Regions from separate parts of the Homo sapiens genome. Here regions 1, 2 and 4 are each linked to region 3. Evidence: fine-mapped expression QTL. A gene starts in region 3. Each other region holds a variant in brackets. All regions are shown on one strand. Distances are between the middles of the regions. Region 1 holds the start of LOC107984831 (a long non-coding RNA gene). Region 2 overlaps ACSM1 (acyl-CoA synthetase medium chain family member 1). Region 3 holds the start of ACSM1 (acyl-CoA synthetase medium chain family member 1). Region 4 overlaps ACSM1 (acyl-CoA synthetase medium chain family member 1).

Region 1 (8,111 bases), 92 kb after region 3:
TGCCTTTTGGTCAGCCTCCCATGCCGCCATCCTCTGGACCAGCCTCTCAGCCAGCCTCTGTACCAGATTGCCAGCCGGCCTCTTGGCAAGCCTTTCAGCCACCCCCTTGTCCAGCCTCTCAGCCAGCCAACTTACCAGTCAGCATCTCAGCAAGCCTCTAATCCAGCCATCCTCTCAGCCTGCCTCTAAGCCAGCCTTTCAACCAGTCAACCTCTGAGGCAGCCAGCCTCTCATACAGCCTCTCAGGCAGCCTCTTGTCTGGCTCTTAATCCAGACAGCCTCTCAGCCAGTCTCTCTGAGAGGTCTGAGTGCCGGCCTCTCAGACTTCCTCTGGACCAGCCTCCTAGCTGCCCCCTTGGCCAGCCTCTCATCCAGCCAGCCTGCCAGCTCTTATTGAAGGGCTGCAGGGTGTCTTGTCTGCACATGGCTTCCATTACCATTGAAGGAACATTTACTAGGAGAATAGCAATTGTTTAGAAGATCAGTTTTACTAGCCTTTAAAATAAGCGCAATAGCACATTAAAAAATCCAAGAAATCAACACTTAAAAAATTTGTGTTTCTGGACTCAGAATTAACATAATAACAAACAATCAGATTTAAGGGGAAAGAACTATTATCACAAATTAATAACTCATCCAATGCCTATTAGTTAAGCAACTACTATATGCTCAAAATTGTTTTACATGATCTTTGCCCTCATGGATAAAGAGAACAAAGGTAAAAAAAAAAAAATACTTTTGACCAAAAGCTCTGTTGGCATCCTACTAAACAAATGCAAACCTATTTAATTTTCATAATGTAAATGGCAGCTATTTTTATAATTCTTCTGCTAATAAATTATTTTTTTCTGATTTTTTTGGTAAAACCCAATATTCATAATGAAGTCCAGAACCATGAATTGTTTAAAATGATTTCTTCTTATTTATGATTACAAGTATACCTCTACAGGAAGTCAGTATACTCATACCAAAGCTAGTATTCCAGAAGAAAATGGCAAATTTAATAATTCCCAGGAACACAACAACAATGTTAAGCATCCAAGGAATTCAAAAAAAGTCAGGCCCAGGATGAAGATGGCCAGGCAGAAAATTGATGACCTGGAATAATAGCAGTTGAAATAATGAGAAGGGTCAATGACATTTACAATATTTCAGTCACAAAGAATTATCCTTAGAAACCCTCAACCTCCTCCAAGAAGTAAGTGCACCCTCAGATATCACCAGGGGATTCCACCGTTTCAAGAAAGATTGGAAATTACCAGTCCCATGTTTCTCGCATGGCTGGTAGTCTTCTTAGGCTTTGTGAATGTGGTGTGTCTTTTTTCTTGGTCTAAAGCAGGGATGTCCAATCTTTTGGCTTCCTTGGGCTATATTAGAAGATGGAGAATTTTCTTCAACTTGGGCCACACATAAAATACACTAACACTATCAATAGCTGATGAGCTATAAGAAACACACAAAAAACTCATAATGTTTTAAGAAAGTTTACACATTCATTTTGGGTTGCATTCAAAGCTGTCCTGGGCTGCATGTGGCCTGTCAGCTGTGGGTTAGACAAGCTAGGTATAAGGTAATTACCTTTTCTTTAAAGTTATTTACTTTTATTTACTTATTTACTTATATTTACTTATGTTTTAAATTGAATATGACATTGTATCTATTTGTCATGTACCATATGATGAAAGAATCCCTCTGAATCATACTTCTTTCTTAGAGTACATGAATTTTTGCTATTTAAAGATCAGCATAAGTAAAAAAAATACAATAAAGAGATGATTTCATTCAGAAATAAGTATCAAATTTTAGTGCTTAAACATAACCAATGTAGAGGTCATAAAAATGGCATGAATAGTATGGGGTTTCTCTAAGATTCTTGATATTAATTCCATTAGACTCTTACGTGAATTAAGACAAAGATTTCACCTGAGTAACTTCCAACACCTTCTGATAACATTCCTACATTGATTCCTTGGATTTAACTGTATATTCTTGAAAACATCTTAATTTTAAATGTTTCAAGATGGCGAATTAAACAGAGATAGCCATTCAACAGGTTAAACTCAGAATATGCTGAGTCCAAAATGGAAAGGATTGAATTAGAGATCTGTGCAACAATGGGAATGATTTCAGAAACATTGTGTTGAGCAGAATAAGGCAGACACAAAAGAGTACCTATGGCATGGCATGCATCTATATATGTGAAATTCCAGACTAAGCAAAATTAACCTACTATGAGAAAGGGATTGGCTAGGAAGAGGGAGAGTTCACTTTCTGTGGTGACATAATAGTGTAGATCTTGAAAAGGAGGTGGGTTATGCTGGTGTAGGTACTTTTCAAAGTTAGTAAACTCACACTTAAGATTTGCATATTTTCTTCTATGTCACTCTTCTTTAGAAGAAAATTTTATAAAGAAATATTGAATTCTAGTTAATGTTAGTCTTGCCAAACTATTCAGCAGGAAGTATGTTGATGCCTCCAATTCAGTTGGAAATACATGTAAAATAAGATGGGCTGAGGGATGGGTAGAGGAATGGAAAGATGGGTAGATATGTGTTGTCATGTTCATTAAAATGTTAACAAATCAATGTTGTATGTATGAGCATTTTTATAACAAAATGTTGATGGTAATTGCCAAAAGTCACTTGTCTCATGTCAGTGAGTTTTCCTTTGAACAGGAGTTCGAAAATAATTATTATTCATGTTCTATATGTTGGAACAATTTGAGACACTCTATCAATTGGATCTTTTCCCTGTCAATTGGCCATGTAGTTGCAAAAATGCAAGGATACACAGGGAAATCTTGCAGAGGTGCTGCTTTCTGGGTTTTGTTGTTTTCAGGACAAAGACCAAATGGGAAGAACAAGTCGCATATCTCTTTCCAAGGGAGAGGATTGGCAAACTATTGGCAATGGTACTAGAACATTGTAAATTGCACAGGTGGCTCACATTCTATTTCTTTTGGACGGTGCTGCCCCAGAGCTGTCTTCAGCTTTGCAAGGTCAGTTCAGGATTGGCCAAAGGCTTTTTGAGGGATTGCCTTTGAAGTATTGAGCCTGGAGAAGTGGGCTCTGAGTTCTGACCTCAGACCCAGAGACCCACAAGTCAGTGAGAGGTCAAAAGGACGGACCTCGGGGTCAGAGGAGAGAAATGACCATCACACAGCAGAACTGAGACTTTCTGCTCAGAAATGTGGAGAGTTTGTTCTACAAGTCAGTAGGGACCACAGTCACCATCAGCACTGACCACAGGTTTCTCCTAACCTCTGTGTTGTCCCCAAAGCCCAGAATTTATGACAATGCTCTCTTTCCTCTCTTTGGTGACAGACAGGAGGCGACCGCATGAGACCATGGCTGAGACACCTAGTCCTCCAGGCACTGAGGAACTCCAGGGCATTCTGTGGGTCTTGTGGGCAGCCAGCACCTCTACCTGTTCCTCAGAAGATCGTGGCCACCTGGGAAGCCATCAGCCTGGGAAGGCAGCCGGTGCCTGAATACTTCAACTTTGCCCATGATGTGCTGGATGTGTGGAGTCGGCTGGAAGAGATGAAGCCTGTTCTGTCCTAGAGTCCATCTGGGGCATCTGAGGCTGCCCTCATGTACCACAATGAGACTCAAGGCTCCAAGACATGTTGATGAGGAAATTTGGACCTGGGAATTTTGCTAGTTCTAAAATGTAAACTGTTGGCATTTGACACTTAGGAAAAAAATTCTGAGTCAGTGTTGTGAGCCTTAGACATGCTTGTTCCTTCTCTGAAGTGTCCTGC[G/A]TTCTTGAGCCCAAATCACACAGTGAGACAGTTATGTCCCTTCCGATTCCCTTCCAGTTGTTCATCAACTGAAGGAGGAAGTTTTGTTTTGCTGCTACTCTATCTTTGATGTCTCTCTCTCACTGTCATGCCCTTCTCTTCTAAATAAGGAAAGAAGGCCGGGCGCGGTGGCTCATGCCCATAATCCCAGCACTTTGGGACACCGAGAAGGGCAGATCACCTGAGGTCAGGAGTTCGAGACCAGCCTCGCCAACATGGTGAAACTCCATCTCTACTAAAAATACAAAAAAAAAAAAAAAAAAAAATTACCCAGGCATGGTGGTGCACACCTGTAGTCCCAGCTACTTTGGAGGCTGAAGCATGAGAATTGCTTGAACTCAGGAGGCAGAGGTTGCAGTGAGCCAAGATCATGCCACTGCACTCCAGCCTAGACAACAGAGTGAGACTCCACCTCAAAAAATAAAATAAAATACAACAAAACAATATAAAATAAGGAAAGAATAGGGCTCAGGCTCAAAGCTTTTTGCAGATCATAACAGATACATAGAATTGAATAAGATAACCCTGATTTCTTTGTGTGTCTCTGTGCATCTGCTTTCTTCTTTATTTTCTCTTATATCTGTGTCTGTTGGGTCTCTCTATTTCATGGTTACCTTTTATTTGTGTTACATGATACTAACTTTTCATTTATAAGAGGAAGACATACTTGTAAAACTGTATTTCAACCAATGTGAAGCTTAACCAATGAGAAAAGCCTTTTCCCTAGGGGCTTTTTGTCCAAAACAATTACAGACAAATGTTTAACTTCATTGTTGCCTAAGGTGATGGATAACAGTAGGGACAAACAATAGACTCACCAAAAAGTGAAAAAAGAAAAGCTGGAGAATACAAAACTGGAAACATAAAATTTAATTCAAAGAATTGTATTCATGTTAATTATAAGAAGAGATTGTTTAAAGAAAAAGTATGAAGTAAATGGCGTTGTTAGTAGATACAATAAAATTAACTGTCAGCAGATGTGGTGAAACTTATGAAGGTGGTATGAGGATGACTGAGACTTAAAAGCAGGATTTGCAGTCAGATAGACATTGTTCATCCATGTACATGAAGTGTGACCTTGGACAAGTGCCCTAAGTTCTTTAGATCTCAACTTTCTCATCTGTAAAATGGTAGTCAGACCATATGCTACTTAGAGTAATAGTGAGAATTAAATGAGAATTGCATGTAAGAGATGAAGCCAGGATGCTCCATTACTGATGGCCTACAAAAATCGAAGTTCTTTTTGCAATACTAGGGGCATCCTTAGAAGACTTCTCCTAATGATAAAAACAAGCAAGCAGGATTAGGTCAGGAAAAAAAATGGTAGAATAAGGACTGTCCAGCTATGTGGTAGCCTTGAAAAATAACAGCCCCCATTTCTGGTGCATCACAGCAACCATTAGATGGGCCAGAATGGAGTTGGAGTTTTTTCAAAGCTTCACTTATGAAGAACTGTTATTATTTGAGCTGCCCATTGGTCCTTTGGAAGACCCTACTTGTAAAACTGTATTTGAATCAACTTGAAGCTCAACCAATGAGAAAAGCCTTTTCCCTGGGGGTTTTTGTCCAAAACAATTACAGACAAATGTTTTAGCTTCATTGTTGCCTAAGGTGATGGATAACAGTGGGACAAACAATAGATTCACCAAAGAGTGAAAAAAGAAAAGCTGGAGAATCCAATGTCTATGGGAGCTTTAAAAAATTCTATTGTATTCCTGGAAATCTAGAAATCAACACACGTAAGTAAGGCTGTGTGCTTTCCCAGGGCATTGCACATGCTTAGGAAAGATCTGAGGAAACTCTAGGCTCCCACTTCTGGCAGACTGAGAGTTGGAGCATGCAGGAAATTAAGACTAAGGCAGGATTGTTAATTGCCTGGCTGAGTGCTAAAGGTGTGCCCCAACACCCACCCAAAGACTGGGAGATTTATTGGTTTCAGGCATTTAAAGAAATTTCTGTCTAATCATAAGATGACTACTAAGTGATGCTGAGTGAGTAAGTGATCACGCACTTATTCAGAAGGCTAGGGTTTTTAGGCTGTTATTATTATTATTGTTACCTCTTCCAGCTCATGCATTCCAACCCTCCCCAGCCCCTTCCTGCCTTCATCTCTTACCTCTATACCCAAAGTCTTCCCTACTATCCACTCAACATCCCCTTCTGTTTTATGCCAGGGACTGTGATGATTCCAGGTGTCACTCAGCTGACGCAGAAGGACCTCAAGTACCGGCTGCACGCGTCCAGGGCCAAGTCCATTATCACCAGTGACTCCCTAGCTCCAAGGGTGGACACCATCAGCGCCGAATGCCCCTCCCTCAAGACCAAGCTGCTGGTGTCAGACAGCAGTCGGCCAGGCTGGTTGAACTTCAGGGAACTCCTCCGGTGAATTGGGGCTCTCCAGGAGAACAGCAGAAAAATGAAGTCATTTCCCCTTTAAGCAACAAGAGATGAAATGCATTGCTGATTCCACACATAGAGAGCGAATCAGAGAGGAACACTCCCATTGGCAGCCAGGCTGACTTGAGCATAATCCTGGTCCCTACCTTAATGTTCAAGGTCCCTCATTCAGTCAGTGCTGGATTTGTCAGCAGCTTTTCTGTGCTTCATTTGCTTCTATAATGCGGTGGTAGTTATTAGAGCTACCATTCAGAGTACATGAAATAACCAATATGGTGCATTTAGCACATAGCAGGTGGTCAGTTAATAATAAACTAGTGGCCATGTATTGGGTACTTAGTGTATCGCTAGATACTGTGCTATGTAAGCCTTCACCTTCATTCATTCATGCAGCGAAGATTTAATGAACATCTATTTCACGACAAGCATTGTGTTTGGTGTTCAGAACACCATAATGGATCAAACATCATCTTATTTAATCCCTGAAAAGGACATTGTGATGGGCCCTTTAACTCAGTTTTACAGATGAGGAAACTGAGACTTGGAAAACTAAAGTGACTTGCCCAAGGTGCTAAAAAGTAGTCAAGTCAGGAGTGGGCAGAGCCGAAAGCATATTTGCCTTGGAGCAAGGGCCTGGTGGAAACCCATCTCAGAATTTGAGACTTTGTCCTGATTGGAAGCCAGAACCCAAAAGGAGCCTCTCAGGGGCCTGAACCATTGAGTCATGCATGCTCACCCCACAGACCAGCTGCATCAGATTCACCTGGGTGCTGTTTTGAATACAGATGACAAGGCCTCATATCTGACCTACTTAACCAGACATAGCTGAGCAAGAGCCCTGGGGATCTTTTTTAAAAAATCAGCCCATAGGGCCAGGCGCCATGGCTCACGCCTGTAATCCCAGCACTTTTGGAGGCTGAGGCAGGCAGATCACCCGAGGTCAGGAGTTTGAGACCAGCCTGACCAACATGGAGAAACCCCGTCTCTACTAAAAATACAAAATTAGCTGGATGTAGTGGCACATGCCTATAATCCCAGCTATTTGGGAGGCCGAGGCAGGAGAATCACTTGAACCCGGGAGGCAGAGGTTGCAGTGAACCAAGATCACGCCATTGCACTCCAGCCTGGGCAACAAGAGCGAAACACCATCTCAAAAGAAAAAAAAAAATCAGCTCATATGATTTTGAGAGCTGTCAGGTGGGCCTAGATCAGTGGTTCTCAATTTTGGCTGTTACTAGAATTACTGAGAAGCATTTAAGAAAACATCAAAGATTCTGATTTTATTTTGTTCAGGGTGGATACAGACAAGTTTCTTCCAAAAATTTACCAGGGGACTTCACAGTGCAGCCAGGGATGAGAGCCCGTGGATTAGCTGATCATCCAGATCACAGAACTTTGGGAATTACCTAGATCTCAAAACCCCATATTGGGGGAAACCTTTAGAAAAGAGTTCTAAATTATTAGAAATTGGGATGGGGGTGGAAGCTGTGCCTAAATGTGCAGAATTATAGACATGGACGTGTGTGTGTTCTACCAGAAAGTCCTCATACCTTGGTAAGAAAGCATGGGCTCTTTTGAGTGAGTTATGTAACCATTTTGAGCCTCAGTCTCCTGGTCTGCAAAAGGGTTATAATGATAGTACCTGCCCCTTGAGGTGGTTGCAGATTACCCAAGCCAGAGCTTTCAGCACAGCACCTCGCATGTGGTATTTATGAAACGGTAGTCATATTGTTGTTATACATATTATTGGTGCTACTAACTGTTTTTACCGTGGTAGTGCCACCTAGTGTTTTTACGTTTTACAGGGAGGCATCTACAGAGCACAACTGCGTGAGGACAAAGTGTCAAGACCCACTGGCTATCTACTTCACCAGCGGAACCACCGGGGACCCCGAGATGGTCGAGCACTCCC
Region 2 (8,111 bases), 23 kb after region 3:
GTAGTATGTACACAGTGTGGGCATCCTTCTAGAGATTTCTCCCCTTCTAGTATAGGCAGAAATGGTAACAACATTAGTGTATGTAATAGAAACATGCTTACACTACACATAGGAATGGCAAACCTTCCTCTGGGCATGGACATTTGCAGCATTTGCAGTAATAATGTAACAACAGAACAATTATAACTAGGCTTATAAATTTTATCTACATTTACTTATCTAGAGATGGTCCTCTTAGCTTCGGCTGTGTGTAGACTAGTCAGCTTCCAGGATGTGACTAGAGCAGAGCTTGCAAGATCTTCAAGCTTCAGCCATGTGTAGACTGACCAGCCTCCAGTGTGGTCAGAGCAGGGCAGTTGTCCTTCTTACTGGTGGTTGGGATTCGCCGTAGGTCTATTCGGGTGGGGCAATCAGGGTCTTGTTGGTTAATCCACTGGTCATAGTCGGGAGTCACTGCTGCTGCTAGTTTCAGCCAGCTATGGTGAATCCAAGGTGTGACACCTGCAACTTTAACAGCAGTAGAAGTAGACATGATTACAATATGAGGCCTATCCTGTATGGGTCCTAGAGTGGTTGGATTCCATTTTTTAACTTAAAGAAAATCCTTAGGTTTGAAAGGGTGTACTGGGTCTGTTAGACTTATAGGCATTTTTCTATACCTAGCCATGCATTTTTGCATGGCCATACTTAAAGTCTGCATTTGCCTTCTTAAAGTTACTTCTTCTAGTCTACAGATGATGGGGGGTGGCCGGCTGAACAAAATCTCAGAGGGGGAATACCCAGTTTGCTTGGTGGAGGTGCACCTGACTTGGAGGAGGACCATGGGCAAGACCTGATCCTACCTTTGATGAGTTTCTTGACACAATTTCTTCAGCAGTTGTTTTAGTGTCTGGTTCATGCTCTTCGCTTTACCTGAGCTCTGCAGTCTGTAGGCTATATGTTATTTCCATTTTATTTTTAATAGTCAAGTTAAGTCCTGAACTATTTCAGCCACAAATGTTGGTCCATTGTGAGATCTTAGAGTTAGAGGCAGTCCAAATCTGGGAATAATGTCTTTTAACAACACTTTGGTCACCTCTAGTTCCTTCTCTGTCCCGGTGAGGAAGGCCTTGACTTATCCTGAAAAGGTGAACACCAACATGTACTGATAGCCCCCATCACAGGGTAATTCGGTGAAGTTCATAAGCAGTTTTTCACATGGCATGGCTTCTGTTTCCTGAACTCCTGGGGGTGGAGTAAGCCCTTGTCATGGATTGTTCTGAACACAAGTTAAATATTGTTCATTTACAAATGGCTTGAGTAATAGCAGTGAGCCATGGCACATAGAAATGATGCCTTAATAATGTCTTTAGTGCTGTTTTTTTGTGTGTTTTTTTTTCAGGTCAGTTCCTTGGTGGAACTGTTTTACAAATCTGGGGGCCACCGTTTCAGGGATGGCTAGCCTCCCACTGGAAAATTTTTACTATCCTTCTTCAATGTAGTTGATATTTTTCTGGGCAAAACAAGCCCTTTCATTTGGAGTGTAGCTTGGGATCTACAGAAGGGGAATCTCTGGGAGGAGAGGCATAGCTAAGGCTTCTTCTTTAGAAGGTGGGGTTGTCCTGCTTTGCCTCTTTGTCTCATTTATTTATTTATTTATTTATTTATTTATTTTAGCCTTTAGTATTCTTCCTTTATGGTGCCCCTTGCAGTGCATCTCTGCCACATCTTTTAAGGCCTATACAGCATTTAAGAGCTGTAGAATTTCTTCCTTGTACTTTATTTCTTTACTTTCAGCAGTTAAAAGCCTTTTTTTTCTTTGTAAATAGCCTCATGAACATGGAAAGTGTCAGAAGCATATTTGGAATCTGTGTAAATATTTGTCTTTTGGTCTTTTGCTAGCCAGAGAGCTCTTGTCAGAGCTATTAGCTCTGCTTTCTAAGCAGAAGTTTCTGTAGGCAAAGACTGCACCTCTACTACTGAGTCCAAAGTCACCACTGCATACCCAGCTCAGCAGATTCCCTTTCGTATGAAACTGCTTCCATCAGTAAAATATTCTATGTCTGGCTCCCCAAGGGGCCTATCTGTCAAATCTCTCTGGCTTGAGAACACTTCATCTATCACATTTACACAGCAATGAAGGGGGTCTCCTGGTACTGACTTGATGAGGAGCAAGGTAGCCGGGTTTAGGGTATTCACAGTCTCTAAAGTTAGTTTGTTAGCTTATTGAGCCAGTAGGGCAGTGGCAGCTATTGCTTTAAAACAAGGAGGCCAGTGAAGTGCCACAGAATCTAATTGCCTGGATAAGTATGTCACTGGGTGATGCCATGACCTTATGGCTTGAGTTAGAACCTTCATGGCCTCCCTTTCACTTATGGGCATACAAGAAGATAAGCTTAGTTAGTTAGATCTGGCAGTCCTAAAGCTGGGGCCTGAGTCAAGGCTTTTTTTTTTTTTTTAATTTCTTTAAAAGTCTTCTCCTGGTTAGCCTCCTAGAGGAGGGGCTCTTTCTTTCCTTCTCTTTGTGGCTTAGCCATAAGCTAGAAATTTGGGATCTAAATGCAGCAGAACCTTGCTGCCCTTAGGAACTCTCTTATTTGACACCAGGTGGTTGGAGTAGGAAGTGCACAAACAGATTGCTTTTGTTTACTACTAAGCCATCTTTCCTCTTGGCTTATATAAAGGCTTAAATACTGGAGACTTTTAGAGCAGATTTGAGCTTTTTTCTGACACTTTATGTCCTGCCTTTCACAGCAGGTGCAGGGAGTCTTGGGTTTCTCCTGGGTGCAGTAGCCCTTGGCTGGAGGGTTTTTTTTTATACCATGGCCTTGACCATTCTCCTTATTTTATTTATTTATTTTTTGGGGCATTTATTCTTCTAGTGTCATTTCCTTTTGCACCGTGCACATTAATCTCTCTCTAGCCTTGGCCAGCTTTCAAACTCCTGTCCAAACCAGCCTTTTCCATGACTGTGTTCACGCCCACGACCATGCCTCCTTGCAAAGCCAGCTTCTCTTCCCATAAGGGCTGCTGCTAGTAAATTAGCCTTTGTTAAGCCTCTGATCAGCTTTCTTCTCTGCCTCCTGAACTCAGTTAATGTACACCTTGTAACCACTTTAATAAGCTGAGTTGCATTCACACCTACGGAGCTTCTAACTTCTGCAATTTGTGCCTGATATCTCCTTGGGCCTGCCTTACAAATGCTGTGTCCACCATGCACTGATTTTCAGCAGCCTTAGGGTTAAACAGAGTGTACAACCAAAATGCCTCAAAAAGTCTTTCTTAAAACTGGCTGGTGCTTTTATCTGCACCCTGGAGCACCTCTGAGATTTTTTATATTGGTTGCCTTTTTCTTTTACCAGCCTTTAGCCTTTGCAGAAGGGCTTCTTGGCACTTTTGTAGGTGCTGAAGCTGGACTGCATCATCTGGGTCCTAGTGGGT[G/A]TCCTCTTGTCCTCTTAAGAGGCATAAGCATAACTTGGGCGTGACCAGACCTGAGACACCCTCCCTGACTTTTCCAGCCTTTCACTTTAACTTCCTGGAGCTCTAATTTCTCCTTCTCAGGTGAGACTGGGAGCCTGTATCTCTTTGAACTTAATTCCTTAGGGGCAGTTAGCCTTGGTAAAGGGAGGTAGATTGGAATGTAGGGAGGAGGGGTCTCTATTCCCTCCTGTGGTTCTTGCAAAACTGGTTTTCTCTTTCCTGAGACTTTTCTTTTGTCTCCGTAGTTGCCAGGGCAGCTGATTTTTACTTTTACTTTTGGCTTTCACTTTTCACTTTTGGTGCTACAAGCCTCTGTGACTTTACCTTTAACTCCGTAGCCGCCAGCGCAGCTGGTTTCTCTGGGTGTGAGCTGTGAACGTTCTACAATAAACTGCTAGGCAGGGCTGCATTCATTTAGCCATGAATCAATATAAAGACTAGGTCTGAATGCCCTGGCTGTCTTCCAGGGCTAGTCACTACCTTAAAACACACAGCCAATTTACCTATAGTGCCATTGGTCAGCCATCCATCACTAAAAGAGGGCTATTCTAATTCACAGTATGTCCTTAACTTTTGAACATCCAGTTTCATCCCATAATCAGCTCTAAATCCTTTTTAAAAATTCTTTATCATGCACTCCAAAAGGAGTTGGTTTCCATGCTTTTCCTCCCATTTCCTCCCTTGAGGTGCACTTTCACTCTAAGGTCCACCAGACTGGGTCCTATTACAGGAGTTTCAGACGCTGCTTAGCCAGGAACGTGCCTTTCCCTGCCACAGACTGCTGCAGCTGTGAAGCTCAACCTATCAGCCATATGCAACATCCTAGGACTGATTTCCCCCACACTCGCCTGGGAGCACACAGCCTGCGCTAAGGGATCTGTGCCTCCCCACATTACTCCCCGCATTGGCCTCTCCTGAGACCGTCTCTTTCACACACTTTCACACACCTCCCTTGCCTCAGGACTCCTCATCGGACAAAACAACCCTCTCTCGTGTCCCGGGTGAGCCTAGTTAGATTCCCACATTCACACACATACACACACCACTTCTACCCCAGGACTCTTCATCAGAGGAAACGAACCTCTCTGGTGTCCTGGGTAGGTCCGCACACACCCACACACTCCCAGTTGGGGTGGCAAGCCACTCTTACCATTCTGCCAGCAAACTCTTCCTTGCTGCACTTGCCGCTGTATCGGCCCATTTTCTCCACCAGTGAACCACTTTCACTTTGTTAGGGGGACACGAGGTTCATCCAAATTGGCGGGCCACTCCTGCCACCCCCAGCCACTCTGGGTTGGATGAGTGGTTGGTCCCTGGGAGGTGATCAAGCTCACCTTCATCCCTATGGGATGGGCTTTCCTACCTTGGGCCCTTTCTCCTTACCGCGGTTCCTGAAGTGCTGGTGTCATCCTGCAGCCCCATCTCAGGTTCAGTTGCACTGCTGGGCAGGATGCGGGGAGAGCCAGTCTCCATCCGGGTGAAACTCCCCCATGGCATGCCTTGGATGCCAGGTCTTCCACAGCCCCAGGGCCCTAGTCCCATGGGCAAAGGAGACAGTAAATCTGTTATCTCCAATCCCCATATGGGCCACCAGAAATGTTTGGGGATGATTTAGGAATCAGAGAGACCGATGGGGTTGAGGAGGATATATGTATTATTTAGGTGCACCAGCCAACCCAGTCAGATTAATATCCAAAGGACTGAGCCCAGAACAAAGAGTCAGGTTACCTTTTAAGCATTTTGGGGGTGGAGAGGGGGGAGGGAGAGATCTGTTCAGGGGGAAGCATATTACAGAAGTGAGAAACAAAGACAGTTATTCAATTGAGACATGCATTACATCATTTCTTACTTTTCAAGGAAAAACATGTTTTGCAACTTGGGTTTATCTGTCTAGTGACCTTGCAGCTGCACAGCTAGAGAAACAGGGTCTTCACAATGCCTGGGAAAGGGAGAGATAAGGCTCACTAGCCACAGACAGAGAAACAGGCAGTTAATTTTTAAAGGACTCCACCTCTTTCTCTTCCTCTGGGGCAACTGGGTTTTCTTACATACAACTGAGTTTTTGCTTACACATTCTTTAATTTCTTTTAATTCCTGTTCCACAGGTAGAAGAATGCCATTCACTCCCAAGTGGTGAGAGACAAGCAGCCAGTGGTAGGAAGGTCATCAAGTCAGTTGTCAGAAACCTCACTTATGTCACTGTTTTGCTATGTGACCCTGACCTAGTTCCTTGCCCTCTCTTGATCTCAGTTGCTTTATCTGTAAAATTTCACATTTTTCAGCAAGTCAACCTTCCATGTTCCTCTCATTAAAATATACTCACCCCTGGGACTGTGCAAAGGAGATTTGTAAAGTCAGGGGGTTATTGTGTTACATATTCCTTGTAGGTGGGAAACCTAAAGTCTTATTTTTCTATTAAAAATATATGAAGTAGTTGAATGAAAGGTTAAAATGAATTTTTAAGGTAAAACTTAAGACCCCAAGAAAAATGGAATTGCCAACTATGGCTTATAGGTAGCTTTGGGAGCAAACTCTTTCCATCTCCCAGGGACTGGGTGCCTTCAGAGACACCTGGGGGCAAAGTGAAGGAAGGCTGGAGATAAGAAAGGCCCCTTCTGCCTCCAAAACTCTGATTCTGTAAGCCTTCAGTCATGTCTCACATTATACACACAAACCATGCTGGGTTTGTTTTCTTGGAGTAATACTTGAGTTTTTAAAGCTCTTTATTTCAACCCCAAAAGGCAAACATTACAGCAAAGTCACATCTTATGCTGTAGTCTAATGTCAGAGAATTTAATTAAAACAGAGTACTCTTGAAAAATCCCTCGAATTTCCCAAAGTCAGTATGATACCATTTCACAGCAAGACCAGCAGACCTAGTGTTTCCTCTCGTGTTGGGATTATTTGCAGTTGCTTTGAACACCATAGAAGCCTTGCATTTACAATTGTAGTAGGCCCAAGGCCCTCTCAGTCCAGGGGAAGCTCCTGAGAAACAAGAGAGACTGAGGGAACCACAGATCTTATCTGCCATCTCAAGCTCATGCTAGGGCAGAGGTACATTGATCGCAGTAATTTTATATATAATATATATATAATATGCAAATTTATATATAAGTATAATTTATATATAAGTATATATATCATATAATTATATGTATATATGACATGTAAGTGTATATAATATATGACATATAAGTATATATTTTATATATTTATGTATAATTTTATATATAAATTTTATATATGAGATATAATATATAAATGTTTTTATATATTTATATGTAATATGTTTTATATATATTTATATTTATTATATATTATATATATTTATATTTATATATTATATATTACATATATTATATATTTATATTTTTATATATTATATAATATATATTATATATTATACATATTTTGTACATAATTTATATATAAGCATAATTTATATATAAGCATAAATATTATATATAACTTACATATACTTACATATACATGTATATGTATATATATACTTATATATAAATTATATACAATATATACTATATGATATATATTATATATACTTATATATAAATTATATATCCTATAATTATATTTATATATGACATGTAAGTATATATTATATATGACATAAAAGTATATATTTTATATATTTATATATAATTTTATATATAAATTTAATATATGATATATAATATATAAATATGTTTTTTATATATATATATATATATATATATTTTTTTTTTTTTTTTTTTTTTTTGAGATGGAGTTTTGCTCTGTCACCCAGGCTGGAGTGTAGTGGTTTGATCTCGGCTCACTGCAAGCTCAGCCTCCCAGGTTCACAACTAATCTCCTGGCTCAGCCTCCCGAGTAGCTGGGAGTATAAGCGCCCACCAGCATGCCCAACTAAATATATTTTTTTTACTCTCCCCCTTTCTCTCTTTCTCTTCCCCACCCCTCATCACCAAGGTCACAGAGTTTAATTTTAAAAAACAAGCTTAGCAGTCTGGTTAAGGGCACAGACTAGGATGCCGACTGAGTTTGAATCCTGGCTCTGCCATTTGCTAGCTGTATATTACCAAGCAAATTACCTAACCTCTCTGAGTCTCAGTTTCCTTACCTGCAAAATGGGCATGATTAGAGTAGTACTCATCTCCTAGGGTTGCTCTGAGTACTGAATGGTTCATATTTGTAACTCATTGAGAGCATTGCCTGGAACATAGCAAGTGCTATTCAAATGTTCATTAGATTACTTAATGAATTCATTAAATTACTTAAGATTCATTACTTAAATTACTTAAGATTAAATGACTTAAGATTCATTGTATTTTACTAATTTTTCAAATAAAAAAATGCTGGTCCACATGTCCGAATCACCCATCAAGTCAGTGTGATGCCTAACTCCGGGAGAGCCAGTTTTCCTCTAGTGTTGCAAACTCCCAGTTTCCTGTCCGTGCCTTATGTTTCTTTTGCATTCCCAGAAGATGAAGAAACAGCAATCATGACTTTTTTCCTTTTGTCTTGAACCCCTTTGCAGATCAGCATCCCCAGAACACACCTGTGTTAAGTCAAAGACCTTGGACCCAATGGTCATCTTCTTCACCAGTGGGACCACAGGCTTCCCCAAGATGGCAAAACACTCCCATGGGTTGGCC
Region 3 (8,111 bases):
TATCCAGAATCTACAAGGAACTGAAACAAATTGATAAGAACAAAAACAAACAACCCCATCATAAAATAGGCAAAGGATATGAACAGATAGTTCTCAATAGGAGATATTTATTCAGCCAACAAACATTTGAAAAAAAGCTCATCATCCCTGGTCATTAGAGAAATGCAAATCAAAATCACAATGAGATACCATCTCACGTCAGTCAGAATGGTGATTATTAAAAAGTCAGGAAACATTTGGGAGGCCAAGATGGGCAGATCACGAGGTCAGGAGTTTGAGACCAGCCTGGCTAACATGGTGAAACCCCATCTCTACTAAAGATACAAAAAATTAGCCGGGCATGGTGGCACATGCCTGTAATCCCAGCTATTCAGAAGGCTGAGGCCGGAGAATGGCTTGAACCTGGGAGGTGGAGGTTGCAGTGAGTCACGATTGCACCATTGCACTCCAGCCTGGGCAACAGGGCAAGACTCTGTCTTATAAAAAAAGAAAAGTCAGGAAACAACAGATGCTGGCAAAGCTGTGGAGAAATGGGAGCACTTCTACACTGTTGGTGGGAGTGTAAATTAGTTCAGTTATTGTGGAAGACAGTGTGGGGATTTCTCAAGGACCTAGAACCAGAAATACTATTTGACCCAGCAATCCCATTACTGGGTATATACCTAAAGGATTAGAAATCATTCTACTATAAAGATACATGCACATGTATGTTTATTGCAGCACTATTTACAGTAGCAAAGACTTGGAACCAACCAGAATGCCCATCCATGCTAGACTGGATGAAGAAAAAGTGGCACATATACACCATGGAATACTATGCAGCCATAAAAAAGAATGAGTTCATGTCCTTTGCAGGGACATGGATGAAGCTGGAAGCCATCATTGTCAGCAAACTAACACAGGAACAGAAAACCAAACACTGCATGTTCTCACTGATAAGTGGGAGTTAAACAATGATAACACATGGACACAGGGAGGGGAACATCACACACCAGTGCCTGTCAAGGGGTGAGGAGGAAAGGGAGGGAGAGCATTAGGATAAACACTTAATGCACATGGGGCTTAAAACCTAGATGACGGATTGATAGGTGCGGCAAACCACCATGGCACATGTATACCTGTGTAACAAATCTGCATGTTCTGCACATGCATCCCAGAATTTAAAGTAAAAATTTTTTTAAAAAGATTCCAGTTTGGTCTATCTGGCTCTGAAGTTTCTTTTTAAAAATTTGTAACAGCCACCCTTTGAAAAGCACTTGCTGTATGGTAGACATTGTCAAGTGTCTTCCGAACATTATTTCAAATCACTCCTTCCACAGTATACAAGTCCATGCAATACTGGATCTGAGATGAGTGGGGAAGTCATTGGTCAATTTATACGGCATGGTTGAACAAAAATAAAACCACACTGGAATTTTCTATTGTCATCAATTCCAGAGTATTGAGAAGCATGGCAGATAGGATAGAGACAGCCTATAAGCAGGAAAAACTAGCTTAAATAAAATCATGATTCAAGTCCTATTCCTGCCTTCTGTAGCCTCCGTGACTTTGTATGTGCTATATAATCTTTTCAGCATTTTTTATATATAAATTATGACCTACCATTTATATTATTGAAGAAGTCAAAGGCTGAGATTCATCCTTGATTCTTTTTATTCACTCCCTATCAAAACCATCAACAAGTCCACCTAAGGTTGTCTTAAAGATCTATCCCATATCCGTCTGCTTACCTCCATCTCCAGTGCCATAACTCTTGTCTGAGCCACCGTCATTACTTGTTTAGTCTATTGCAGTAGCCTCCCGACTGGCATCCCCACATCCATTCTTGCCTCCTTAAAATATCTTCTCCACAGAACTGCCAGAGTGGGCTTTCTAAATGCAAATCTGACCTCTTTTTCTGAATGTTTTACTTTCCTGTATTACTTTATTTCAAAATCAAGTCACCAAGAAAATGAGTTACTTAATAGGATCATGTCTCTTTCCTCCTAAAATCTTCACGAGACTTCCATGCACCCACCCATTGCACTTAGAATAGAATCCAAACTCCTTATTATGTCCATAAAGATCCTTAATGGCATGTCTCCTGCTTGTGTCTCTGACCTCACACTTTATCATACTTCTCACTCAGTAATCTGCCATCCCAGTCCCCCACCTATGCCTTGAAAATGTCAGCCTCAGGCTTTGCACTTGCTGTGGCTTTTGCCTGGAGTTCTTTTTCCCTAGCTGGCTGCTTCTCCTCCTTCAGGTCTCAAAATGTCACCTCTTAAGGGAGAACATCCTTAGCCACCTCCCCACACTCTCTCCATCATATTGCCCTGTTCTGTTTTCTTTTTGGCAGTATCACCATTTGAAATCCTCTTGCTTATTTAATTGACTTTTTGCTTATTGGCTTTTGCCTTTCTATCATAGGCATGTAAACCTCTTGAGAGCACCAACCTTGTCTTACATGTTTAAAGCACGCCTAAATGTTCCTTAAATATCCACTGAATGAATGAATGTATCATAGGTTTTCTATAATAAGCAGACGATAGCAAGTTCAAAAAGCTGAGGTTGGTAGGATATTTAGCTACATGAAGTCACTCAGAGAACAAGGCTGATAGAGACTTTGCCATTTTACGATGTCACTATCTCCATATATGGTTTCCAGGAGCATTGAATCAGGGGAAGAGAGTACAGAAAACTCATACCTGCTCTTAAATAAATGCCCTAGGCCAGAAGTGACTTGTAACACTTCCACATGGAGTTTATTGTTCAGAACTAGAGTTTAATGGCCTCACTTTAGCTTTAAGAGAGGTTGGGAAATGAAAGAGGAGCACACATAGAATGTTTGGAGAGTTTTCCTTTGTCCGCTGTATACCTCTTGTTAAAGATGAGAAAATTGAGGAAAAGAGGGATAAGAAATCTGCTCAATGTCACAGAGCTGGTAACTGGTAAAAGCTAGACTCAAGCCCAGGCTGCCTGGTGCCAGAGCCTGTCTTCTTGTCCATGCCTTCATGTTGCAGTTCCACAGGGGAGAACTACTCAGATGCAGAGAGTGTGTCAAGGGCTTTTCCCCCGTCTCCATTCTTTTCCGAAAAGTGGCTGCTCCTTCTCTTTAGTAACAGAGGTTTTTTGGTTAGTTGTTTTGTTTGTTCGTTTCTTTGTTTTTTGGTACTTTGATGCTTTGGGTGTTTAAGGTTTAGCTTACCATGGCCAGTCAACTAGCCCTGCCTTCTCACCTCTCCAGTGACTGGCCACAGAAAGCTAAATATTAAAAACCCAAACTATCCTAGCTTGCCACACGGTCCTGTCAGGAATGTCCTGGGTGTCTCCAGAAATCTTTAGCCATGACTTTGATCAGAAATAATTTCTTCCCAGCTTCAATGAAAATACTGGAGATCCCTCATTCTCTAACAATGCCCCAAAAATGGCTCCAGTAGAAAAGTCATAGTACAAGCCGCTACCTATGACTACCTTGGTTTATCCAATGCAATATCACTATCAACCCTCCATCTAAATGCCTGGTCCAGGTGCTTTACAGGCTTGGTGTCACATAATCCTTTCAATGATCCCATGCAACAAATCTTATTAACAAATCCTGCTTCATTTTACAAATGTCAAGACCAAGCTTTGAAAGGAAAATGGTTCACCCAAGAGCTTTCTTGTGAGTGCCTGAGGTTGGACTTAATTAAGCTCAAGACTTTGGGATTCCAAAGACCCTGCATTTTACCAGGATACCAAATTGTTCCTCTGAGAATCCCAAGTGAATAAAAAGAGCCAACATCGACTATGCCCAGCACCGTGTGCTACATGCTTTTTATAAATTATTTCATCTAGTTCTAACAAACAAATGAAGAAGCAAAGAAAACACCCTGGGAGGTAGGTATTGTTGTTATCATTCCTATTTTACAAATAAGGTAGGTGTTGGGTGCTGTGGCTCATGCCTGTAATCCCAGCACTTTAGGAGGCTGAGGCGGGCAGATCACCTGAGGTCAAGAGCTCAAGACCACCCTGGCCAACATGATGAAACCCTGTCTCTATTAAAAATACAAAAATTAACTGGGTGTGGTGGCGGGCACCTATAATCCCAGCTACTTGGGAGGCTGAGGCAAGAGACTCAATTAAACCTGGGAGGCGGAGGTTGCAGTGAGCCAAGACCATGCCATTGCATTCCAGCCTGGGTGACAGCATGAGATTCTGTCTCAAAAGCAACCGAAAACCAATTAAGGGAGGTGAGGCCCAGAGCAAGAAGGTCCACAAAGATGACATGGAGGTTAAGTGGCAGACCTAAGGCTCAAACTCAGACCTTTCTGCCTCCAGACCTCCAGAGCCCAGGCTCTTATCCATTAGGCTACACTGACTCTCAGCTGTCATTTAAGGGAGACTATGGTGATGTAGGGCTGGGAAGGGGGAGCAGGTTAGCCACAGAGAACTAGTGAAAATGCACCATTGGATCTAGTTCATTCACACCCCTAGCCATGCCACCGGAATTGGAGGTGACTTCGTATACGTGGTTTGTTTTTCTTTTTTTTTTTTTTTTTGAGACAGAGTCTCTGTCTCCCAGGCTGGAGTGCAGTGGCATGATCTCGGCTCACTGCAAGCTCCGCCTCCCGTGTTCACGCCATTCTCCTGCCTCAGCCTCCCGAGTAGCTGGGACTACAGGCGCCCACCACCACACCCGGCTAATTTTTTGTATTTTTAGTAGAGACGGGGTTTCACCGTGTTAGCCAGGATGGTCTCCATCTCCTGACCTCGTGATCCGCCCGCCTCGGCCTCCCAATGTGCTGGGATTACAGGCGCGAGCCACTGCGCCCGGCCCACATGGTTTGTTTTCTAAGTGATTATCTCTCCGTGGAGGCCTGTAATTGTTTCTGTCCTATTTTACCTGAGCATCTCCTCCCCCTACTGAATTACCCAATTCCTAACAAGTTCTCTGTTCAAGGTCCCCCTTCGCTGTGGCCAGAAGCCAAGTTCTGCTGGGTGCACAATCCTGCGGATCACCTGATCAGAGAGAACTGAACCTACAAAAGAGAGCTCAACCTCCTTTTCCATACCTACCAGGGACCTAGTTCAGCTACGTCCTAAACAGTACCAGGTAAGACAGAGGTGAAGGTCAGCTTCTATCTGTGTGTGTGTGTGTGTGTGTGTGTGTGTGTGTGTGTGTGTGTGTGTGTAATCCAATTTTAAGTTCTGGCAATGCTACTTTTAAGTTGAGTGACCTTGGGCAAGTCACTTAACTTCTTGGCACTTCATTTTAGAGGCAAAATGACAATGGTGATATTGGGTGAGAGGAATAAATAGGAACGTACATGTAATATGTTTAGCACAGTGGCTGGCATGTAAATGGGGACTGGTTTAGTGTCAGGCAGCTCTGAATGTGGTGAGCCGTGGGAGACAGGCACAAAGTCAGAGATGAATGTTTGAAGGAAATCTTTTCTATCTATGCAGAAGTTGGCTCACTTTCTATAAAGTGAATGCCTTCTAAAAAAAATTATCCAAGCATAGTAATACATGCCTGTGGTCCCAGGTACTTGAAAGGCTGAGGCAGGAGGATGACTGTAGCCCAGGAGATTGAGGCTGCAGTGAGCTATGATCACACCACTGCACTCCAGTCCAGGTGACAGTTTCAAAAAAAATGGTTAACATCTAATGGGGAGGGGGTTGGCTTCAGAATTTGCTGGGAGTTAAAAGGTACCTCAACATTTATTGAGTCCTTACCGTGCACTTCATTCAGTGCCAGCAAGTAAATTATCACACTAATCCTTATGGGGAGCTGGGAAGAAGGTATTACTACTGTGCGCTTAAGTTCAGAGACATGAACAGCACCAAAGACCCAGCTGCTAGACAACAGAGACAAACATCTAGCCCTGGCTCTGTAACTCTGGGATACCCTATAACACAGTAAGTATGTTGCTTCATTAAATAGCTTTATCAGTCCCAAGTCCTGTGAAGTCAAAGCTTAGTTGCAGGAGCTGTTCAAGGCACTATGTATCTGGGAATACAGTGGGGAGCCCAGCTGCCTCTCAAAGCTACCATGTCAAATTGCTTTCAGAATGCACTTTAAGCAGTTCAGAAAATTGTTCTTTAAAATGATTTCATAGGATGTGCTTTAATGATATGCTCTAACAGGGTAGGAACTCTTTCAGTTTAATTAATCTCCAATAGTATCTAAAACTGTACATGGTACATCTATAGTAAATACTTGAGAAAGAAAAAATACATTTTTCTATAACTCAGATAATTTGTGGGCACACTGGCTTTTCTCTTTCTGACTTTCATCACTCAGTTTTCTGAATTATGACAAAGAAGGGAAGAATCTAACTTTTTGTTGAGCACTTACTATGTCCAGCACGGTGAGAAATAGACAAACTAAGCTTTGTGAAGTCAAATCTGAAGACAGATGTGGATGGAAATAGATATCGAAACAGAGACAGAGACGGAGATAGAGATAGAGACAGAGATAGTGATAGAGATAGAGACATGCATCACTTAACAACCAAGATACGTCTGAGAAATGCATTGTTAGGTGATTTTGTTATTATGGGAACTCATAGAGTGTACTTACACAAACCCACAAAGCATAGTCTTCTACACATATAGGCGATATGCTATAGCCCATTGCTTCTAGGCTACAAACCTATGTAGCTTGTTGCTGTATTAAATACTGTAGGCAGTCATGACACGATGGTAAGTACTTGTGTATTGAAACATAGAAAAGGTACAGTAGAAATATGTCATTATAATTGTATGGGCCACTCTGTATATGTGATCCATCACTGACAATGACATCATATTGTGGCACATGACTACAGTGTACATGTGTTATTGTTATAGACATTAATATTAATGTATAGATATACACAGATAGTGATATAGGTATAAATGTAAATATTGGTATATAGATACAGAAATAGATTTAGAAATGAAGCTTAACATACATACAGAGATAGAGATAGACGCAGACATAGACATATAGATATCTGATTTTCAGTCCTCAACACTTGGAGATCAGGTTCTTATATATCTAGATAGATAGATAGATAGATAGATGATAGATAGATAGAAAATAGGTAATAGGTAGATAGATAGACGATAGATACATAATAGATAGGTAATAGATAGATAAATAGATGATAGATAGATAATAGATAGGTAATAGATAGATAGATAGATAGACAGATAATCAGTGAAAAAGCTGGACATATACCAGTCCTATGGTGTCTATGTTCAGGTATTCATCCCCATTCCTTCTCTTTAGACCTTAACTCCAAAAGTTAAGGAAATTTTTTTCCTCTGGCTTAACTACTCTATAAGAGCTTCCCTATAAAGTGTGTTAACTAGCAACAGCTCTTATTTCTAAAATACTTGTCCGTGCTGAATGCTTTTTGCAGGATATCGTGCATTTATCACCATGGCTTCAGGCAATAGGTGCTGCCAATATGCCTATGTTTTTATAGGGAGGTTAAATAAATTGCCCCAAGTTATGTGGGTGGGAAATGAAAGTGCTGGAATTTGAGCCCGTGTTGTTTGATCTCTAGGGCCATGCTGTTTCAGCTACCACAGTTCTCCACAGCTGGGCACTGTGTTTGGCCCTCTCATGTGACGAAGATTAAATTAGAATCACAAACACATTTGTGAGATGATGCCAAAGTCATTTCTTCTTTATTTGATCAAGAGGAGTACATTGGTTTGCTAGGGCTGCCATGAAAATTACTAATGACTGAGTGGTTTAAACAACAGAAATTGATTTTCTCAAAGTTCTGAAGGCTGGAGGTCCAAGATCAGGGTGGTTTTCTCTGAGGTCTTTTTCCTTGGCTATCTTCATATTCACATGGTCTCCCTCTGTGTGTGTCTGTGTCCTAATCTCCTCTTTTTATAAGGACACCAGTCATATTGGATTAGGGCCCACCCTAATAACTCATTTTAACTTAATTACATTTTTAAAGACCCAATCTCCAAATACAGTGGTGTTCTGAAATATTGGGGTTCGTACTTCACCACATACATTCATGGGGGACACAGTTCAAACCATGATAACTGGTTAATGGATTCCCTCACTATATCTCTCCCTTTTGTTTTGGTCTTTAGTCACTTAGTAAGGGGTTGTTTGGACTGTCTTCAGGAAAAATGGT
Region 4 (8,111 bases), 35 kb after region 3:
TTGAGCATTTTTTCATATGTTTGTTGGATGCTTGCATGTCTTCTTTTGAGAAGTGTCTGTTTATGTACTTTGCCCATTTTTTAATTGGATTATTTGGGTTTTACTTGTTGATTTGTGTTCTTTGTAGATTCTGATATTAGTTCTAATTAGACATCACATATAAGAGTCTACAAATAACTTAAATTCTTTGTAGAATCTGGATATTTGATTCTGGATGTTGTCAGATGCATAGTTTGAAAATATTTTCTCCCACTCTGTAAGCTGTTTACTCTCTTGATAATTTCTTTTGCTGTGCTGAAGCTCTTTAGTTTAATTGGGTCCCACTTGTTAATTTTTGGTTTTGATGCAATTGGTTTTGGGGACTTAGCCATAAATTCTTTGCCATAGCTAATATCCAGAAGAGTATTTCCTAGATTTTCTTCTAGGATATTTACAGTGTAATGTTTTATATTTAAATCCTTACTCCATCTTGAGTTAATTTTTGTATATGGCGAAAGGTAGGAGCCCAGGTTTATTCTGCTACATATGGCTAGCCAGTTTTCCCAGCACCATTTATGGAATAGGAAGTCCTTTCTCCATTGCTTATTTTTGTTCACTTTGTTGAAGACCATATGGCTATAGCTGTGACTTCTCTATTGTGTTTCACTGGTGTATTTGTCTGTTTTTGTACCAGTACCATGCTGTTTTGGTTACTGTAGCCTTATGACATAGTTTGAAGTTGGGCAACGTGATGCCTCTAGCTTTGTTCTTTTCAGTATTCAAGCCCTTTTTGGTACTATATGAGTTTTAAAGTCGTTTTTTCTGATTCTGTGAAAAATGACATTGGTATTTTAATAGGCATAGCATTGAATCTATAAATTGCTTTAGGCAATATGGTCATGTTAACAATATTGATTCTTCCAATATATGAGCATGGAATCTTTTTCCATTTATTTGTGTCATCTCTGATTTCTTTCAGCAGTGTTTTGTAGTTTTCTTTGTAGCCATCTTTCACCTCCTTGGTTAGATGTATTCTTAGGTATTTCATTTTTAGTGGTAGTTGTAAATCAGATTGTGTTCTTGATTTGACTGTCAGCTAGAACATTGTTGGTGTATGGAAATGCTAATTTTTGTACACTGATTTTATATCCTGGAACTTTACTGAAGTTGTTTATCCGTTCCAGGAACCCTTTGGTAGAGTTTTTAGGGTTTTTTAATGTATATAATCATATATTGTCAGCAAAAAGAGATAGTTTGACTTTTTTTCTATTTGAATATCTTTTATTTCTTTCTCTTGCTTGATTGCTTTGGGTAGGACTTCCAATTCTATGTTGAATAGGAGTGGTGAGAGTGGGCATCCTACACTTTTTCCAATTCGCATGGGAAATGGTTCCAGCTTTTGCCTGGTCAGTGTGATGCTGGCTGTGGGCTTGTCATAGATGGCTATTATTTAGAGGTATGTTCTTTCAATGCCTCATTTCTTGAGGGGCTTTATCATGAAGAGAGATTGGATTTTTTGAAAGCTTTTTCTGCACCTACTAAGAGGATCATATGGCTTTTCTTTTTTATTCTGTTTAAGAGGTGAATCCTGTTTATTGATCTGCATATGTTGACCCAACCTTGCATCCCAGGAATAAAGCCTACTTGATCATGGTGAATTAACTTTTTGATGTGCTGCAGGACTCAGTTTACTAGTATTTTGTTGAGAATTTTTGCATCTACGTTTATCAGGGATATTGGCCTGGAGTTTTCTTTTGTCATTGTATCTCTGCCATATTTTGGTGCCAAAAGCATTCTGGCTTCATAGAATGGTTAGAAAGGAGTCCCTTCTCCTTAATCTTTTGGATTAGTTACAGAGGGATTGGTACCAGTTCTTTGTATATCTGTTAGAATTCAGCTGTGATTCTATCTTGTCCAGGGCTTTTTGGGATTAGTAATTACTGATTCAATTTCAGAACTTGTAATTTGTCTGTTCAGGTTTTCACTTTCTTTCTGGTTCAATGTTGAGAGGCTGTGTGTTCCCAAGAATTTATCCATTTCCTGTAGATTTTCTAATTCAGGTGCATCAGTGTGTTCATAATAGTCTCTGAGAATCTTTTATATTTCTGTGGGACCATTTATAGTGTCATCTATGTCATTTCCGATTGGGCTTATTTTGATCTTCTCATTTTTTTCTTTGTTAATCTAGCTAGCAGTCTATCAATATTGTTTATTCTTTTGAAAAACAAGCTCTCAGTTTCATTGATATTTTGTATAAACTTTTGCATCTTAATTTCATTCAGTTCTTTAATTTTAATTATTTATTTTCTTCTGATAGCTTTGGTGTTTGTTGGTTGTTCTTTTTTTTCCTAGTTCCTCTAGAAGTGATATTAGATTCTTAATTAGCGATCTTTCTAACTTCTTAATGAAGGCATTTAGTGCTATAAACTTTCCTCTAACATTGCTTCAGGTGCATCTCAACGATTTTGGTAGATGGTATCTCTATTTTCATTTTCATTAATTTCAGAAACTTTTTTGACTTCTTGTTCACCCAAGAGTTATTCAGGAGAAAATTGTTTAATTTCCATGTTTTTATATGGTTTTCAGTGATCTTGTTGACATTGATTTCTGTTTTTCTTGCACTGTGGTCTAACAATGTACTTTGGTAAGATTTTGATTTTTTGAATTTATTGAGACTTGCTTTATGACTGAACCTGTGGTCAATTTTAGAATATGTTCCACGTGGGAACAAGAAGAATGTATATTCTGTGGTTGTTAGGTAAATTATTCTGTGGATGTCTATTAGGTCCAATTGGTCAAATGTTGAGTTTAAGTCCATAATTTCTTTGTTAGTTTTCTGTCTCAATCATGTGTCTAACATTTTCAGTGTGTTGTTGAAGTCCCCCACTATTTTTGTTTGGCAAAATCTTTTTATAGGTCAAGAAGAACTCACCTTATAAATCTAGGTGTTCCAACATTTGGTGTGCATATATTCAGGACGGTTAAGTCTTCTTGTCGAACTGAACCATTTATCATTATATAATGCCCTCCTTTGTCCTTCCTAATCATTGCTGGTTTAAAGTCTGTTTTTATCTGATATAAGAATAAGGACTCCTGCTCTTTTCTGTTTTTCATTTGTGTGGCAGATATTTCTCCATTTCTTTGCTTAGAGCCTGTGGGCATCATTACTTGTGAGATGGGTCTCATGAAGACAGAAGACAGTTGGGTATTTTCTTTGTATCCATCTTCCCACTCTGCCTTTTAAAGGGGGCATTTAGACCAAAAATAAATAAATAAATAAATAAATAAATACTATTCAATTTAGTAAAACAAAACATTCCTTCTATTTCCTCTCTACCCACCCCTGTCAACTTAGTCCTTGCCAAATCTGTTGCAAGAGTCTGCTGATCTCCGTTCCACACCCCTACTGAAAGCTGCAAAGCACCAGGAGTAGTCATAGATTACAACTTACATGATAATAGCCAGAGCCCACATTTGATGAACACCTACTAAGTGCCAATTTCTGGGAAAGGCCTTAGACACCTATGATGTCTAATTCTTACCTACTAAGCAGAGCTCCCTTGGCTGCCAGTAACAGAAGCCTACTTCAACGTAGCTTAGTGGAAAAAGAAATACACGGAAGGGGGAACTAGAATAGCTCATTATTCTGTAGGAGAAGAGCAATATGAGCTTGATAAAGATCTAAAACAGAAAGTAGAAAGATACCAGCAATTAAGGCAGCTTCAGTGTCTCCTCTGCTTTTCTCTATAGATGTGCTTCCTTGTTTCTGTTTGTAGAAACACTTTTGCTACTTCACATGCACATAGTCAAACATAGCAATCACAGCATTTCAGGGCGACATTCCCCCTTCCCAGATAACCAGTCCAGGTCAACTAGAGGCTGAGTGAGTGGTCCAGAATGTTGGGGTGATCAGACCCAACACAAGGCCGTGGAGGCTACAAAGTCCGGCGGAGTCAAAGGAATCAGAAAAGACAAGTTAAGAGTGCATAAGGTGGGTCCAGGGGACCAACACTGGTATGGAGGCTGTGAAGACCCCAAGCTCTGGGAGCCCACACTATTTATTGGTGATCAAACAAAGAAGCAGGTGGTGAGGACATGCGGATGTGGGGGTAAAGAGGTGAGGATGGGAGGACATGGGGGTAGAAAAGTAGCAGTGCATCAAGCATAACTGTGACGGTTTAGCATTTTCTTTGATGCATATGTAATATGCTCTGCTACCTGAGATAATGGAGAACATATTTATGAGCCTGGGAGAGTAGCCAACAAGTCTGTGCACATTCCAGAGGCCACAAGGGGTTTTATGCCCTGGGCTTAGATTATGGTGCGGCAGGGCAGCCTTCCACCCTTTGGCACAGAGATTGGTGTCCCAAAGGCCACAAGGGGGTTTAGGCCCTGGACCCAGGACATGTTCCAAGACTCTTTTACATCATGACAGAGAAGCCAGTCCTGCCTCAGCTCTTCTACCAACACAGCCTAAGGCAATTGTCTGTCACCAAGTCAGCAATCCAACTCACTGTGCCTGGGGTGAGGTTACTGACACAGACATTGCTGGAGTGGGCCTGAGACTTTCACAGACATGTAAAGACACCTGTTGGGGTAGGGGCAGTGGGCCAGGGGTGAGAGTAGGACAAAAATTTTAAAAGC[A/G]TATATAAATGTGAGATATTAAAGAGATAGAGGCTAGAGATTGAAAGCTGATTGGGTCTTTATGAAGGGAGGGACTGGAAGTAGAGCTAGATTTGTCCACAAATGACAATTATATTTCATCATGATTCTAAATGGAATATATGGACGTTCCCATTTTACAGATAAGGAAATTGAATTACAGACAAATTAAGTAACAGGATTTAAATTAAGATACCCAAACCCACTTTCTCTTCTCTTTACTGTTCTTCACTCTCTTAGTGTATCTCCACCCTGATCTGAAACTCGGAAAGAAAACACATCCAGCCAATTAATCATGAGTACCAAACATTTTAGAGTCTAAATAACCTGGCTCCAACTTACCTTATCTTCCTAAATTTAATTCTTGCTCCTCTCTAGTGGGTCTAAATAAATCATATTATTTGACTTGACTGAAATGTTTCTTTAGCTCCTGAGACCCTATTTCTTGTTATTTCATCTATCTCCAAGAGACTCCCACTCTCCCTGCCTGTAGACACCATATCTATTTGCTAATGTCCTGACTAAATACCACCTCTTCCATCAAGCCCCTGGGACACACAACTAGAAAGAGTATTTCCCTCTCCTGTGTTCCTACAGAACTTTTGTACTTCAAGTATTTCTTATGACATCTACCCACTTCTGCCTTATCATTCGAGTCCTGTTTTATCCTATTAGTGGCTACTCACCATAGGAGTTGGAACGTTATCTGCGTTTTTGTATTTCCCCAACAGTACCTGATGCATACCATGTATGAAATCCATGCTCAGTATGTGTGTATTTAAAGGATTAAGAAATTAACAAATGGGCTCTTCTAGTGGGAAGGTCAGAACTAGACTGCTAATAATTGGCTGTTAGTTTAACCTTAACTGTAAAAATAAAATTTCTTCTCTCTTCCCTTTCCAGACATTGTTGAAATACCCCATTAACCACTTTTGGGGGGTATCATCTATATATCGAATGATTCTGCAGCAGGATTTCACCAGGTATGGTAGAAGTGGCTTGTAACAACATCTTTGGGTAAGATTTTAAGGAATCTGATACATCATGGTCTGTTTTTCTTCTGGTTCTTTGAGGAGTGTGTGTGTGTTTGTGTGTTAAGTGTTGGTGGCGATGATGATCAAAAGTTAATTAGTTAAAGCAAATCCAGAGATCCAAAGGAAACTCAGTGAGCCTTGCATGATTGTGGGTTGATTCCTTTTTAAACATTTCAGTTGTAAAATAACAATTGTACAGAAAATGCATAAGACAGAAATTTACAGATTAATAAATTATTGAAATTAAAATATCTGTGTAACCCACTCACCAAGTCAAAAAAACATAACATTGCCAGTACCTCAGAGACTTCCATCTCCCTTAAAGGAAACAACTATCTTGACCTTTATGTTGTTAATTCCTTACTTGCCTTTATAATTTACCTCCTAAGGAACTATCCCTAACCAAAATTTTATTTTACATGTGTTCGAATTTTAAACAGGTAATGCTACATTATTATATAATAATTGTGTTTCTAAGATGTGTCCCTGTTGTTGCATATTGCTGTAGTTTATCTTAATTGTGTGCAGCATCCTATTTTATGAAAATACCACAATTTCTTATACCAGTCCTACCATTAATGGACATTTCTGTAGTTTTCGCTTTGAGGCTATTGATGTTTAATGCTACATAGAATCCTAGGACATGCACCCTGGTGTGTACAAGCATGCATTTCTGTAGAGTTTTTCAAGGAGAGGAATTGCGGGTCACACTGATACAACACAATACCATACTATCTTCCAAACCAATTTATGCTTCTTTATATAAGCAGGGCAGGAGAATTTCCATTGTTCCATGTTCCTGCCAACATTTGGTATTGTCAGACTTATTAATTTTTGCCAGGCTGGTGGGTGTGTGGTGTTATCTTAATACAACTTTATTTTTGCATCTTCCTATGTTTGAGAATTAATTTTAAGCTAAACCAAAACACACTCTTTGAAACTTATGGATATTTATGTATCTTTTAGGGACTCTGAAATTGAAATGGCTAGTTCAAAAATCAGAGCTAATATGTTTTAGACATAAAAGTTAAAATATCAGAGTTTAATGATTGCCCTTACAGAGCTAACTCTGAATTATAATTTGATTTTACTCATGAAGCTTCAGTCTGGCTGTATTCTGTTTCCATCTGTATTTCAAAGCTCATATGACAGCCAAGTTTTGGAACATTCCTCACATGATGGCCTTGGTCCAAACTTGGCACACATCTTATCATGGCATAACTAATGATTCCATCTGAGACTCTGCCCACTTTATGTACTTTGGTTTAGCTTCAAAAGAATGAGGAAGAGATCCTCAGTGAACACAACCCTCCTATCCTCACTCTTGACCCTGTCTGTATCAGGAGAGGGTAGTGAGGTGGAAAAGTGGTCTAGATGGTGCCACTTTCCTCATCACCAAGAGCTGGCTGGGCTGAGCCTCATGCTAGATGCATCCAGCTGGCTTTCAAACTTCCATCACTTTTCTCCATTTTCTTCAGGGAATCTAATTATTATTTTGTGATTGTTTTTGTATTCTTTGGGAAAATTTCATGGGAAAAAGGGACAAGAGACTTTATATCACATGCTGTACATAGGAAACTACTACTGTTGATGAAAAAAGTGAAACTCTGGAAAATATTTTTAGAGATTTATTCTGAGCTAAATATGAGTGACCATGACCCATGACACAGCCCTCAGGAGGTCCTGAGAACATGTGCCCAAGGTGGTCAGGATGCATCTTGGTTTTATATATTTTAGGGAGGCGTGAGACATCAATCAAATACATTTAAGAAACACATTGGTTTGGTTCAGAAAGGCAGGACAATGCAAAGCGGGGTCTTTCAGGTTATAGGTAAATTTAAACATTTTGTCATTGATGATTAGTTTATCTGAAGACCTGGGATCAAAGGAAATGTTCAGGTTAAGAGAAAGGATTGTGGAAACCAAGTTTTATTGTGCAGAGGAAACTCTCAGATAGCAGACTTCAGAGAGAAAGGTTGTAAAATGTGTCTTATCGGACTTAAAAGGGGTGCCTGGTTCTTAGTTGATTATCTCCTGGATATGGAAAGGAAGGAAGGAAAATGAAGGGGAAAGTGGATTCTCTATAGAATGTGGACTTTTCCCACAAGAGACTTTGCAGGGCAATTTCAAGATATGGCGGAGAAACATGTTTTGGGGTACAATATTTTGATTTTCTTCCTTGTCTCGTAATGTTATGCCAGAGTCAGATTGGAAAGTTAAGTCACAATATACAGGGTTAAATAAAACCCATCTGATGAGAATTTATGGTTTGTAAGGTATGACTCCCCAGGCACCTTAGATAGGAATTTGGGCAAGATTGTAAAAATCAGAGCTCAGTCCTCAGTCCCCGCTCTTGGCCAAAAAGCATTCCATAGAATGCACATGTAGGCCAACAAACAGCAGCAGGTCCCATGGCACTAGGAAGACTCATTCCTA

Evidence for each region. PIP is the estimated chance that this variant, and not a neighbour inherited with it, causes the effect.
Region 1: its variant is fine-mapped to the expression of ACSM1 in blood mononuclear cells (TOPMed, PIP above 0.99). The same link has a PIP of 0.9 or more in T cells, esophagus muscle, gastroesophageal junction, lung, pancreas and transverse colon.
Region 2: its variant is fine-mapped to the expression of ACSM1 in whole blood (TOPMed, PIP 0.98).
Region 4: its variant is fine-mapped to the expression of ACSM1 in whole blood (TOPMed, PIP above 0.99). The same link has a PIP of 0.9 or more in aorta, esophagus mucosa, lung and monocytes.

The regions. Positions count from the first base shown.
Region 1 is chr16:20,602,335-20,610,445 of GRCh38, reverse strand. It overlaps LOC107984831 (a long non-coding RNA gene), which reads right to left and starts at 268. Exons shown (of 3, transcript XR_001752102.1): 1 at 136-268. It also overlaps the pseudogene ACSM5P1. RefSeq lists an enhancer at 5,404-6,603. The variant G/A (reference allele first, on the strand shown) is at 3,764.
Region 2 is chr16:20,671,554-20,679,664 of GRCh38, reverse strand. It overlaps ACSM1 (acyl-CoA synthetase medium chain family member 1), which reads left to right. Exons shown (of 14, transcript NM_001318890.3): 5 at 7,994-8,111. It also overlaps a transcript of ACSM3 not described here. Among named protein-coding and RNA genes, the nearest start is that of ACSM1, 22 kb to the left of the region's middle. The variant G/A (reference allele first, on the strand shown) is at 3,421.
Region 3 is chr16:20,694,599-20,702,709 of GRCh38, reverse strand. It overlaps ACSM1 (acyl-CoA synthetase medium chain family member 1), which reads left to right and starts at 5,030. Exons shown (of 14, transcript NM_001318890.3): 1 at 5,030-5,074. It also overlaps a transcript of ACSM3 not described here and the pseudogene LOC124903661.
Region 4 is chr16:20,659,307-20,667,417 of GRCh38, reverse strand. ACSM1 (acyl-CoA synthetase medium chain family member 1) reads left to right here. Exons shown (of 14, transcript NM_001318890.3): 7 at 5,545-5,624. Among named protein-coding and RNA genes, the nearest start is that of ACSM1, 34 kb to the left of the region's middle. The variant A/G (reference allele first, on the strand shown) is at 4,624.